2 separate regions of the Homo sapiens genome follow, and region 1 is linked to region 2. The links come from fine-mapping of genetic effects on gene expression. A gene starts in region 2. The other region holds a variant in brackets. All regions are shown on one strand. Distances are from middle to middle. Region 1 overlaps ERICH1 (glutamate rich 1). Region 2 holds the start of ERICH1 (glutamate rich 1).

Region 1 (5,524 bases), 46 kb after region 2:
CGTCTCGGCTGGAAGCCTCGGAGGCCTGCGCCGGTTCCGCGCGCTCCGTTCTCGGGGCGGGACCGCTGCATCCGGGGCCTCTCCGCGCCTCGCCCCCGATTCCTCCGTGGCTGCCCCGTATTCCACCTACTACGGCCTCGGCTAGGGCCCCGCGGGCCTGGCGCGCTCCCCCGGGCGCGGCGGGCACTGGCCGCAGTTCTGCCGACTTCAGCCCTGGGTCCGGTCAGCGCTGCGTCCTGCCTCGCCTGGGCCGCCCGGGCGCTCCCCGCGCGCTGCCTTCCTCCTGCTGCGCTCCACAGGGACCCGCCTCCCTCCAGTCCTGCTCCCTGCGCCGCTGCCTCCCTCCACGGGTTCCCGCCTCTCCCCTGCGCCCCCTCAGCGCGTGGTGTTAGCGGGCCCCTTCTCTGCCCATGGGGTGACAGTCTGGACCCACACGCTTAGCGTTTGTTGTGCCAGACCGTCTGGGCTTATTGCAAAGCTTGTGCAAACGTGAGCGTTGCCGGCTTTTTATTCCCCGAGGAGCCTTATCCTGGCGCCTGGTGGAATTAAGTCTTAAGTCAATATTTGGTGAACTGCGTTGAATGATTATGTATAAAAACAGCCCGTAAGGCAAGTGTTAGTGTTTCCCCGGTTCCTAATCACAAGCGGTGTGAGGCATTGACTCAGATTCTGTGCTCAGATCCAGCTACAGAGTCATGAACATAAGTCATTTCTGTGGAGAGCTGTTGTGATGGTGATTCTAGCAGCAAGCACCAGTTGAAATAGTTACTAACTTCACGGCTTCTGGAAGCATGCAGTAAATGCACAGTTATAATGTGGATTCCGTTTGAGTTAAACATCCGTACATGCTCTGTTTTGACAGAATCGTGGCTCTCTCTGCCTTTTGCCTTTCCTGAAGGAGTCCTAGCGTGACTTCTCTTAGCCTTTCCAGAGTGGCTCGTGGGTGGGTGATGGGGCTGCCCCCCGCTCCGCATTCCTCGCATCTCACCCTCTCAAGGGCCTGACAGAGTCAGAGCTAGCAGTGTTTCATTCTTGTCACGCTGATTTATTGATATGAGAGTTCACACATTCAGCTGTGTCCAAGCTCGCCTGGTCCTAGAGGAGGGGAGGGGCGCCCTGCTGTGCGCGCTCTCTCTCTCTCTCTCTGAGTGTCCTGCGAGAGACCTGTTGCTCAGCTGCCTTTACCTACCCACAAGTGGGATGAGAGCCTGGACTTGGAGGTCTCATGCATCCTGGGCCATCAGAAAAGGCTGTGATGGTTTCTAAAAGGTTGGCACTGTGTATGGTCATGTTTTTTGTGTCTTTGGCATCTCCTGGATTCTTCCCGGACTTAATGAAGCCAATGAGAATAGCATTGGCTGTTTGATTAAAGACTGTGGGTGCCGGGTGTCAGGCATGAACTTTGAAATAACTCACCTGTGGGATCTACATGGTTTTTGTTTTTGTTTTTTTTTTTTTTTTTAGCTTGCCTAGGAAGAAACAAAAGAAAAGAATGCATTTGTTCTTATTGCCATTTATTTTCGTAAAACATAGTTACTCGATTTCCAAGCTATTGTTGGCACATATTCCTAAGCAATTTGGATTAGAGAAATGTCTAGATAGTGGTGTATCCTTACACTGCTTTTAGCTTGAAGTGAATGTGTTACAAAAATAGAGTGATTTATGAATATTTTACTAGATATTAATATTTGTTTAATTGAAGTTAAAGAGTATCTGAGAAAAAAAGGTAGAAGATGATGATGATGATGATGATTTTGAGATGGAGTCTCGCTCTGTCATCCCAGCTGGAGTGCAGTGGCGCAATCTCACTGCACCCTCTGCCTTCTGGGTTTAAGCCGCCCTCCTGCCTCAGCCTCCCGAGAAGCTGGGACCACAGGTGCGCACCACTACACCAAGCTATTTTTTTTTTTTTTTTTTTGGTATTTTTTAGTAGAGACGGGGTTTCACCATGTTGGCCAGGCTGGTCTCGAACCGCTGGGGTCAAGTGATCTGCTTGCCTTGGCCTCCCAAATTGCTGGAATTACAGGCCTGAGCCACTGTGCCCAGTCAGTTATTGAAAAAATAATACATGAATTGCCCAAAGCTGAAGAGACTCTCAGGAATAGAAAGATGGCTGAAAGTCCCTACCGTAATAATGAAGAAAGACTCTTGAAATGCCAGACAAGGCCTCGGAAAAAGATGCTAAAATATGCCCCTATTGCAGGAAGTCAGGGACCCCGAACGGAGGGACCGGCTGAAGGCGTGACAGAGAACATAAATTGTGAAGATTTCATGGACATTTGTTAGTTCTCCAAATTAATACTTTTATAATTTCTTATGCCTGTCTTTATTGCAATCTCTGAACATAAATTGTGAAGATTTCATGGACATGTATCACTTCCCCAATCAATACTCTTATAATTTCCTATGCATGTCTTTAATCTCTTAATCCCATCATCTTCTTAAACTGAGAATGTATGTTGCCTCAGGACCCTGTGATGGTTGCGTTAACTGCACA[A/G]ATTGTTCGTAAAGCATGTGTGTTTGAACAATATGAAATCTGGGCATCTTGACAAAAGAACAGGATAACAGCGATGTTCAGGGAACAAGGGAGATTACCATTAGGTCTGACTGCCTGGGAGCCGGGCAGGACACAGCCGTATTTCTCTTATTGCCGAAAACGGGTAAGAGAAATATCGCTGAATTATTTCCCCAGTAAGGAATATTAATAATTAAGAGCCCTGGAAAAAGAATGCATTCCTGGGGGGACGGAGGGGGATCTCTAAAATGGCCGCTCTGGGGGTGTCTGCCTTATGCAGTTGTAGATAGGGATGAAACACGCCCTGGTCTCCTGCAGCGCCCCCAGGCTTGCTAGGATTAGGAGATTCCAGCCTGGTGAATTCTAGTCAGACCGGTTCTCTGCTCTTGAACCCTGTTATCAATGACAATGTATGCACAGTGGAACATGAAACTTCATCAGCAATTCTAGTTTCGCCCTGGCCTTGTGACCTTGCCCTGCTCATTTGCCTTGTGATATTTTATTGCCCGTGAAGCATGTGATCTCTGTGACCCATACCGTATTTGTACACTCCCTCCCCTTTGAAAATCGCTAATAAAAACTTGCTGGTTTTGGGGCTCAGGGGGCATCACGGAACCTGCTGACATGTGATGTCTCCCCCGGACACCCAGCTTTAAAATTTCTCTCTTTTGTACTCTTTCCCTTTATTTCTCAGACTGGCCGATGCTTAGGGAAAATAGAAAAGAACCTATGTTGAAATATTGGGGGCTGGTTCCCCCGATATCCCCAGGAGGTAAACAGATGTCTTGGCAGAAATTGGAATTAAGCTGCAGGCTTCAGAGCCCCCCTCTTCTCTGTGGTACCACTGAAAACCCGTGAAGTAAATGAGCGTTTTAGTTAAGTTTTCAACTCAAAAAGTCACGAGTCCAAGTCAATGAAGAATATTTACAAAACACTTCACAGTTTCAGAGCCTCACACAAATATAACCTCATTTTAACATTTTTTTGTGGATACATTTACTCTATTTAAATTTACTATTTAAATTTTTTATTTACTGTGGCTTTATATTTATTGAATAATTCAATGGCTTTTCTTCATTTGTACTGTTTTAATTACTTTCTTAACTTTCCTATTCTTTAAATTAAAAAAATTGTCCTGCATCTAATTTTAACTTAATGACTTGCCTCATGGTTTTGACAGTTTTATTTAAGGGAATTTAGCACTTTATTGCCCTATTTTAAGACTTTTATTGCTTATAAAATTTTTATCATTTTGTTGGCCATTTTATGGAAAGTTATAGAAAATGACTAAATGTGAATTGTTTTTAAAAGTATCTATCAAGCTGTTTTATGGTGAGACACTAACTACTTTTCCACTAAGTCAGTTTTTAAGACTCAAACATGTAAACATGAAACATAAGAACAATTTCTTGAGTATGTATAATTCAAGCCTATTCAAAACTAATCTAGAAAATTTGGACATTAATTCGGTATCAAAGTCTGTCTCAGGGAAGAATTCAGGAACTAATCTTGTTGAAGATTATGAAATAATGTGTATTTGGCCACATGTTTAGTAAGTATTCAGAAGGCAGACGTTTAGCTTAGCGGCAGATCACATCCAGAGGAAAACCAACCTTTCCTTTGGTGGTTCCTGATCACCGCCCGGCATCCAAATTCAAAATCACAAAACTTTAGCATCTAGATTGTTGTGTTTTAGCCCAACTCAGTTTTTTATAACGTTGAGGTCCCGTATGGTCTTTCAGTACCATTTGGAATCAAAAGCTAAATGATGTCCTGCAGCTGGCATGGAGCCGGGGGAGGAGGCCACATTTCCAGCTCCAAGGCTGTGCCTCCCTTGTTGTCTTTGGAAATTACTGCTCCAGATTCAGATCTATTAAGAGAGAGAGAGCGAGAATCCATTTTTTTAAAGTGACAGGGAACTCTTCAAGTCCTCTTTATTCCGAGGGTGTTCAGGCACCTGCTGACCCTCACGGCTGACCCTGGAGGGGTGCTCCCCGTCTCACAGGCAGTCCTTGGTGGCTGAGGCCCTGGGGAGAAGTCTCTGTCCCAGGAGCCATGTGAGCTACCTTTATTCCCTGAAGCCCTGTCTGCTGGGTCTGAATTTTATCCTCAAAGGCCAAACCGAACATGAATTCCTCTCTCTGTGGCAGGTCTTCTACATGGCAAGCAACTGCCATGGTCCACGCCAGCCACAGCCACCGCTTGTCCATCCCTGAATCTCCAGGGGTCTCAAACCACCCTGCCCGGGGCAGGACATGCTTCTCAGCAGGCCGGAGTGTCCGCGTCTGTGAGACTCCAGTGTTTCCTTGGCTAAATGAGTACAATCTATGGTGTTATTACAAAATATTTTCCTGGATTTTAGGCAAACAACACACTCAGCAACTGGAAGCTTTTCATGTTACTACATTTTAAAGATCTGCTTTCACAGGTAGGGTTTAGATCAACTTGATAAGAAGTTTACTACTTTTTATTTAGCACCTAGAGGACATTGGTAGCTTGAGGGTAATTATCAGATGCAATTTGTAGCCTAGCTTTGAATCTAGAATAAAGTTCATATTCCCTTTAAAATGCCTAGCCTACTTTCACGTAAGAAGGTGCAGCTGTGAGAATTAGAATCTGAAGACTGGTTATTTTTGTTATCTAACTATTTCTACTCCAGCAGTTCATCAGAATGTAGGTGTCAAATAGTAGCAGAGAGAGTTTTGACACATTGTGACTCCTTTTAAAGTTAGTGTGTCTGAAAGGTGTGTTTTGGGGATGGCAGCTTTTCAAAGCGCACTGCTCCAATTATAAATAGCCCGGCCTCTGGTTCCCTCACATCGCTTTCAGCTGCTGGGTGTGAAGGGCGTAGACCTCCCACATGCCCTGGAGATGTGGACATTCTGGAGTCTCTGGAGTGGTTCTGAAAAGTCATATGGAGGGTGCAGCATGAGTGGAGAAGTCACAGTGCAACAGGGTAAAAGGGCCCGTGTCAGAGCCACCAGGACGCCAGAGCATAGAGCACATGCT
Region 2 (5,000 bases):
AATTCTATGAATTTCCATCAAGTTTCTGCTTCTACCACTTCAACAAAATTCCTGTAACCAAGATCCCTGATGGCCTCTGCCCTTTACAAATGCAACCGTACATCACTGGTCCTCCTCTTGCTTCATCCACATCATTGGAGACCAGTGGTTCGTTCTTTGACTTGGCTTCAGGACCTTCCTTTTCTCCCTGGCCACCCTTCATGTACCACAGCTTGGGCCCCCTCATCTCCCCACCTCTCAAAGGCCAGAGCCCCTCGGGGCTTATTCCTTGGACCACTTTCTAAAGTTCACGCCTGCTCCCTTCATGACCTCATATGCTTACTCATCTTATGAGCACCTCAAACTTGACCTGTCTAAAACTGCACACTACCACCAAACGAAGATCCCCAGAAGGCTCTCCACCTCCTCAGTGCAACTCCAGCCTTCCAGTTTCCAAACGAAAAATTTACAGCCATTCTACATTTCTCCTTTTCTGTCACAGCCCAGTTTGATCAATCGGAAAATCTCTTTGGCTTTACCTTAAAACATGTCCACAATCCAACTAGCCCCCCCACCCAGAACCTCCAGTGCCACCACTTGGATGTGAGCTGTCAGCATCTCTTATTGCAGCAGATGAAATCTCCACACTTCCTTCCATGCAACTCTAGTCATCACAACGCTAAATGACTTCTTTAAAATGTACATCAGGCCATGCACAGTGGCTCATGCATGTAATCCCACACATTGGGAGGCTGAGGTGGGAGGATTGCTGGAGGCCAGGAGCTGGAGGCTGTAGTGAGCTGTGATGGCACCACTGCACTCCAGCCTGGGCCAGAGTGAGACCCTGTCTACCCCAAAAAGAAAGAAAATGCATCAGATCATTTCACCCCTTTGCTCTACATCGTGTAACAACTTTCCACCCTGCTTCTTGGAACATGCAAAGTTATCAGGCTCCCTGCAGACCCTGCCTGGGTCTGGGTCTCCTTTCCTCCTGATCTGAGCTCCCCTTATCCTGCCCTTGCTTCTGGTCCCCAAACTCAAACAGGGCAGCCGTTCTCCTGGGACATCGTTTCCCTCCTGTGGGCTCTCTTTCCCTGGGCACCCCCAGTCTTGCTCCCTCACCTACCTCAAGCCCGCGCCCATCACTCTACAGTTAGGCCCTACCAGCTTCATTTTCCTCCAAAACACCCATCTCCGTGGGTTCCTCTCCTGAGACAGCCCACATGAGGAACAGCGCCTGGCACACACCTGGGAAATGTTTTGGAAGAAACGAATTCAAGGAGGAGGGTCCTGAGGGGGTGGAGCGGGAGGGCAGAGGCCCTTGGAGCTGGACAGGGAGACAAGAAGGGGTCTGGCAAGCCGGGGTGACGTGGGGGCCGCTGCCCTGACCACTCCCTGTGTCCCACAGGTGCCTGGGGGCCAGGGACACCGCCCTGGCCATGCCCTGTGTCCAGCAGGTGCCTGGGGGTTGGGGTCACCGCCCTGGCCACTCATGTGTCCAGCAGGTGTCTGGGGACCGGCTGGCCATTCCCTGTATCCTGTAGGTGCCTGGGGGCCAGGGACACCGCCCTGGCCATTCCTTGTATCCTGCAGGTGCCTGGGGGCCGGGGACACCGCCCTGCCCACTCCTTGTATCCAGCAGGTGCCTAGGGGCTAGGGGTCACCGCCCTGGCCACTCCCTATATCCTCCAGGTGCCTGGGGGCTGGGGTCACAGCCAGGGCCACTATCCGTGTCTCGCAGGTGCCCGGGGACCGGGGACACCGCCCTAGCCACTCCCTGTATCCTGCAGGTGCCTTGGGGCCGGGGGCACTGCCCTGGCCATTCCCTGTGTCCGGCGGGTGCCTGGGGGCGAAGCGGGGACTGGGGATCCGCAGGTGCACCCGTGGGGTTGGGGGTGGGCGCCTCTCCTCTGGGGCCCTCCGTTCCCCTCTTCTCCACAACGCCCTCCCTAGCGTTCGCCCCCAGAGTTCCGCCACCGCGTAGAGCAGTCGCCGCCAGCGCTCTCACAGCGTCCTCAGGTCCCCAAGAGCCCGCACCGCCGCCCCCGCAGCCCTCCCTCCGCGCATGCTCCACAGCGGGGCTCCCAGAGGCGGGTCTGGAGCCTCGCGACACGCCTACAGACTCGATATCAGCCAATCTACGGCCGTGATGTAGTTGACTGACCGCCCGTGGCGGGGTCCCGTATTCGGATTGGGCATTCCTGCTGTTGTGGGCGGACCCAGGAGGGCGGAACCCGGAAGGCACGGCGCTCAGCTCAGGACCGCGCGCCGTGGTCTGAGGTCCGCGGCAGGGTCCCGCATGGCGGCGCACAGGAAGCACGGTAGGTGGGTGCGGTGCGGAGGCCTGCCCAGACCCCAGACCCGGCTCTCGGCTCAGACCGCGGTGTTGACTCGGGACCCCGACCCCGGCCCCTTTCCAGGCCCCACCCCAAACCCAGACCGACTCCCCACCTCCACCCCAGTCCCTACCCATCCCCCGCTCTTACCCCGGACCGCGGCCCACCCCTCGCCCGTGTTGTTGCTTGCATGGCTGCTGGTCGGGCCGGCCCTGCCAGGCCCCACCTGGTGTCTGGGGTCCTGGGCGGAGGCGAGCCCAGCCAGGGATTCGTGTTCTTAGCAGAGCCCCTGTTGGTGAGTGAGTAGGAGCCGCTCAGCTCTTCAGAGGGGTCCTAGCCCAGGGCTCCGGGGTGGGGCTGCAGCCGGCTCCGGCAGCCTCACCGAAAAGTACAGCAGAACCTCCCAGAGCCACTGTGTCCTCATCTGAGAGACGGAGGTCATGGTGTTTACCTTCAGTGGACCTAAGGTGTGGGGCGCATCCTAGTGCTTATTAAATTCTGTGATAGCATTAGTACCAAAGACAGGAGGAGAATAAATAGAATTGGTTAACCTGGCCGTGCCTTAGAACGGAAGTGTTAGAAAATAAAGCGTGCTCCTGCTTCCTGCAAACCCCAGCTCATTACCCTCACCGTGTAATCATCATCATAATGAAAAGAGTGGCGGTTTTTGACATGAATCTCGTGTTACTTGGATTAATTCAGGCGCTGATGAATTTTTTTCCTTCTCTATGTTTAAAACTGATAATCATGTTTTTCCCTTTGAAATGAAAAGATAATGGCAAACTATAGTTATAAAACAATTGCTTAAAAAGAAAAAATTTCTCAGTGAGGCAGAATGTGGAGAAAAATATGGTCTCAAGTCTTCCTTTTCAGGGACACACTGCACGTGGGCTTCCCCCTCTCCTTCAGGACCAGGGAATTGTCACCTGATCAGCTCACAGGTTAAAAATGACCTAAGAGTTTTTAAGCAGTCACATGCTAGGCTCTAAAATGGACATTCACGTATGTTAATGAGCACCAGAAATACCTTGTTCATGACCCTCTCCTGGAAGCAGGGCTGGCAGGCTGTGAATTCAGTGTCGAGGTTCTTAGGAGCAGACCTGACGGTCAGCTGCCTGCAAAGCTGTGCCTGCCTTCTTGGTGGGGGGCTTCTTGCTACTGCAGGTTTTCTCCTTGTTTTAAACCACAACACACTCTTCTCTTACATTCCTTCAAATGTTTGCACTCTTCTAAGCCTGGAATAAATGCTCTTCTCTATGCAAGAAATTATTATAGCATCTGTAATGTACCTAATCAACTTAAAAAAAAAACCTTTCTCCATTCACCAAATTAAAGTGAATGAAAGCTGTTAATTGTTTTAGTCATTCACTAATCACCTTCCCTCGAAACAGCCTTTTTTTCCTATTGGATATGTGACAGAATGGTCAAGTAAATTTACGTTGTTTAAGGACATTGTGGTTGGAAGGATAGATTAATAAATCCCAAAAGTTTATAAAATGTAGGTGGGAAAGAAAATATTAGTTTTCTGTGTGTCTTCCTCAAGATCACCTGAAGAGCCCATCGGCTGAGTGGCACTTAGGCTCTGAGAGGCACTGAAGGGAGGATTTAGCTGGAATAAAACTTCCCAGCATTTGTGACCTGATGGAGCAGGAAACTGGAGTGTGTGTCTTCTTCAGAGCATTTCCCTTCTGCGTGGCTTGCAACGAGTGAAGTTAGGGGAAGGTGCCGCAGGAGGAGGGGATGGAGCTTGGCGTGTCCCCTTGCAGGGATGTCTGTTTTCCCAAGGTCCAGCTCAGGGTCATGGGGTGGTTGCAGGTGGGGGTTGGGCGCTGTTGTTGATGGTGGGAGAGGAGGCAGGTGCCACAAGACGCAGGTGTGCCTCTCCTGGAGCAGACCCCACACAGAACTGACTTGGCGTCGTTTATTCACCGCCGGATGTTGGCGGAGCATCTGCTGAGTGTGGCAGAGCCCCTCAGGCCCTGGCTGCGGCAGCGAATCAGGCACGGTATCCCTCCCTCCCCGAGCTAAGTGAAGCTCTGCTGTGCTTTGAGGCTGTGCTTGGGTTTAGGGCAGTGCTTGCTGACAGAGGACACATCCAGGGGCCCATACTCTCCCCTGCCTGGCCCTGGCACAGACCAAGAAACATGAGGTGGAAAGGTTGGCAGTCAGGCTAAACAGTGATTCTAAGCATTTTTTTTTTCCTGGAAGTAGATTGTTTCTGCTAGGCAATATAATCTGCTAATGTGACAGTTTCCCTGTAACAATGTGTAGCAAAACTCTGCAGGATTAATGAGAAGAATGTATTGCCTTTGAAGCAGCACCACTTGAGTAAAAATTCCTCAAATGTGCTCTATGTTATGCTAGTGTAAGTATAGCACCGGAGGATATTTCTTGGGCCTACTTTGCAAGCCTCTGAGAGGTGCTGTGCAGCTCCGACCATGAACTGCTCTCCTAATTGAAGAGGGTCCCAGGAAGGGGAAGGGCACTATGGCCTCCATTCTACCCAGGGAGATTGGGTGAATATCTGGCATGTAATTAAGTGCTAGCTCAGGTCGGGCTGTTTCTGGCATATAGGGTAGCCAGCGGTCAGGGGAGCCTGGAGTGGGGTTGCAGTGGACTGGGGAGGCCCCCAGTGTCACAGATCTCCCAGGGACTGCGTGCTCCTCGAGGAAGGGGCCTGCTGCG

What was found.
Region 1: its variant is fine-mapped to the expression of ERICH1 in cerebellum (GTEx, PIP above 0.99).

Annotation. Positions count from the first base shown.
Region 1 is chr8:682,387-687,910 of GRCh38, reverse strand. The region is part of intron 3 of ERICH1 (glutamate rich 1); the gene reads left to right. Among named protein-coding and RNA genes, the nearest start is that of ERICH1, 46 kb to the left of the region's middle. RefSeq lists an enhancer at 1-232. The variant A/G (reference allele first, on the strand shown) is at 2,498.
Region 2 is chr8:728,440-733,439 of GRCh38, reverse strand. It overlaps ERICH1 (glutamate rich 1), which reads left to right and starts at 2,216. Exons shown (of 6, transcript NM_207332.3): 1 at 2,216-2,300. The coding sequence starts at 2,279. RefSeq lists enhancers at 4,229-4,733, 4,794-5,000.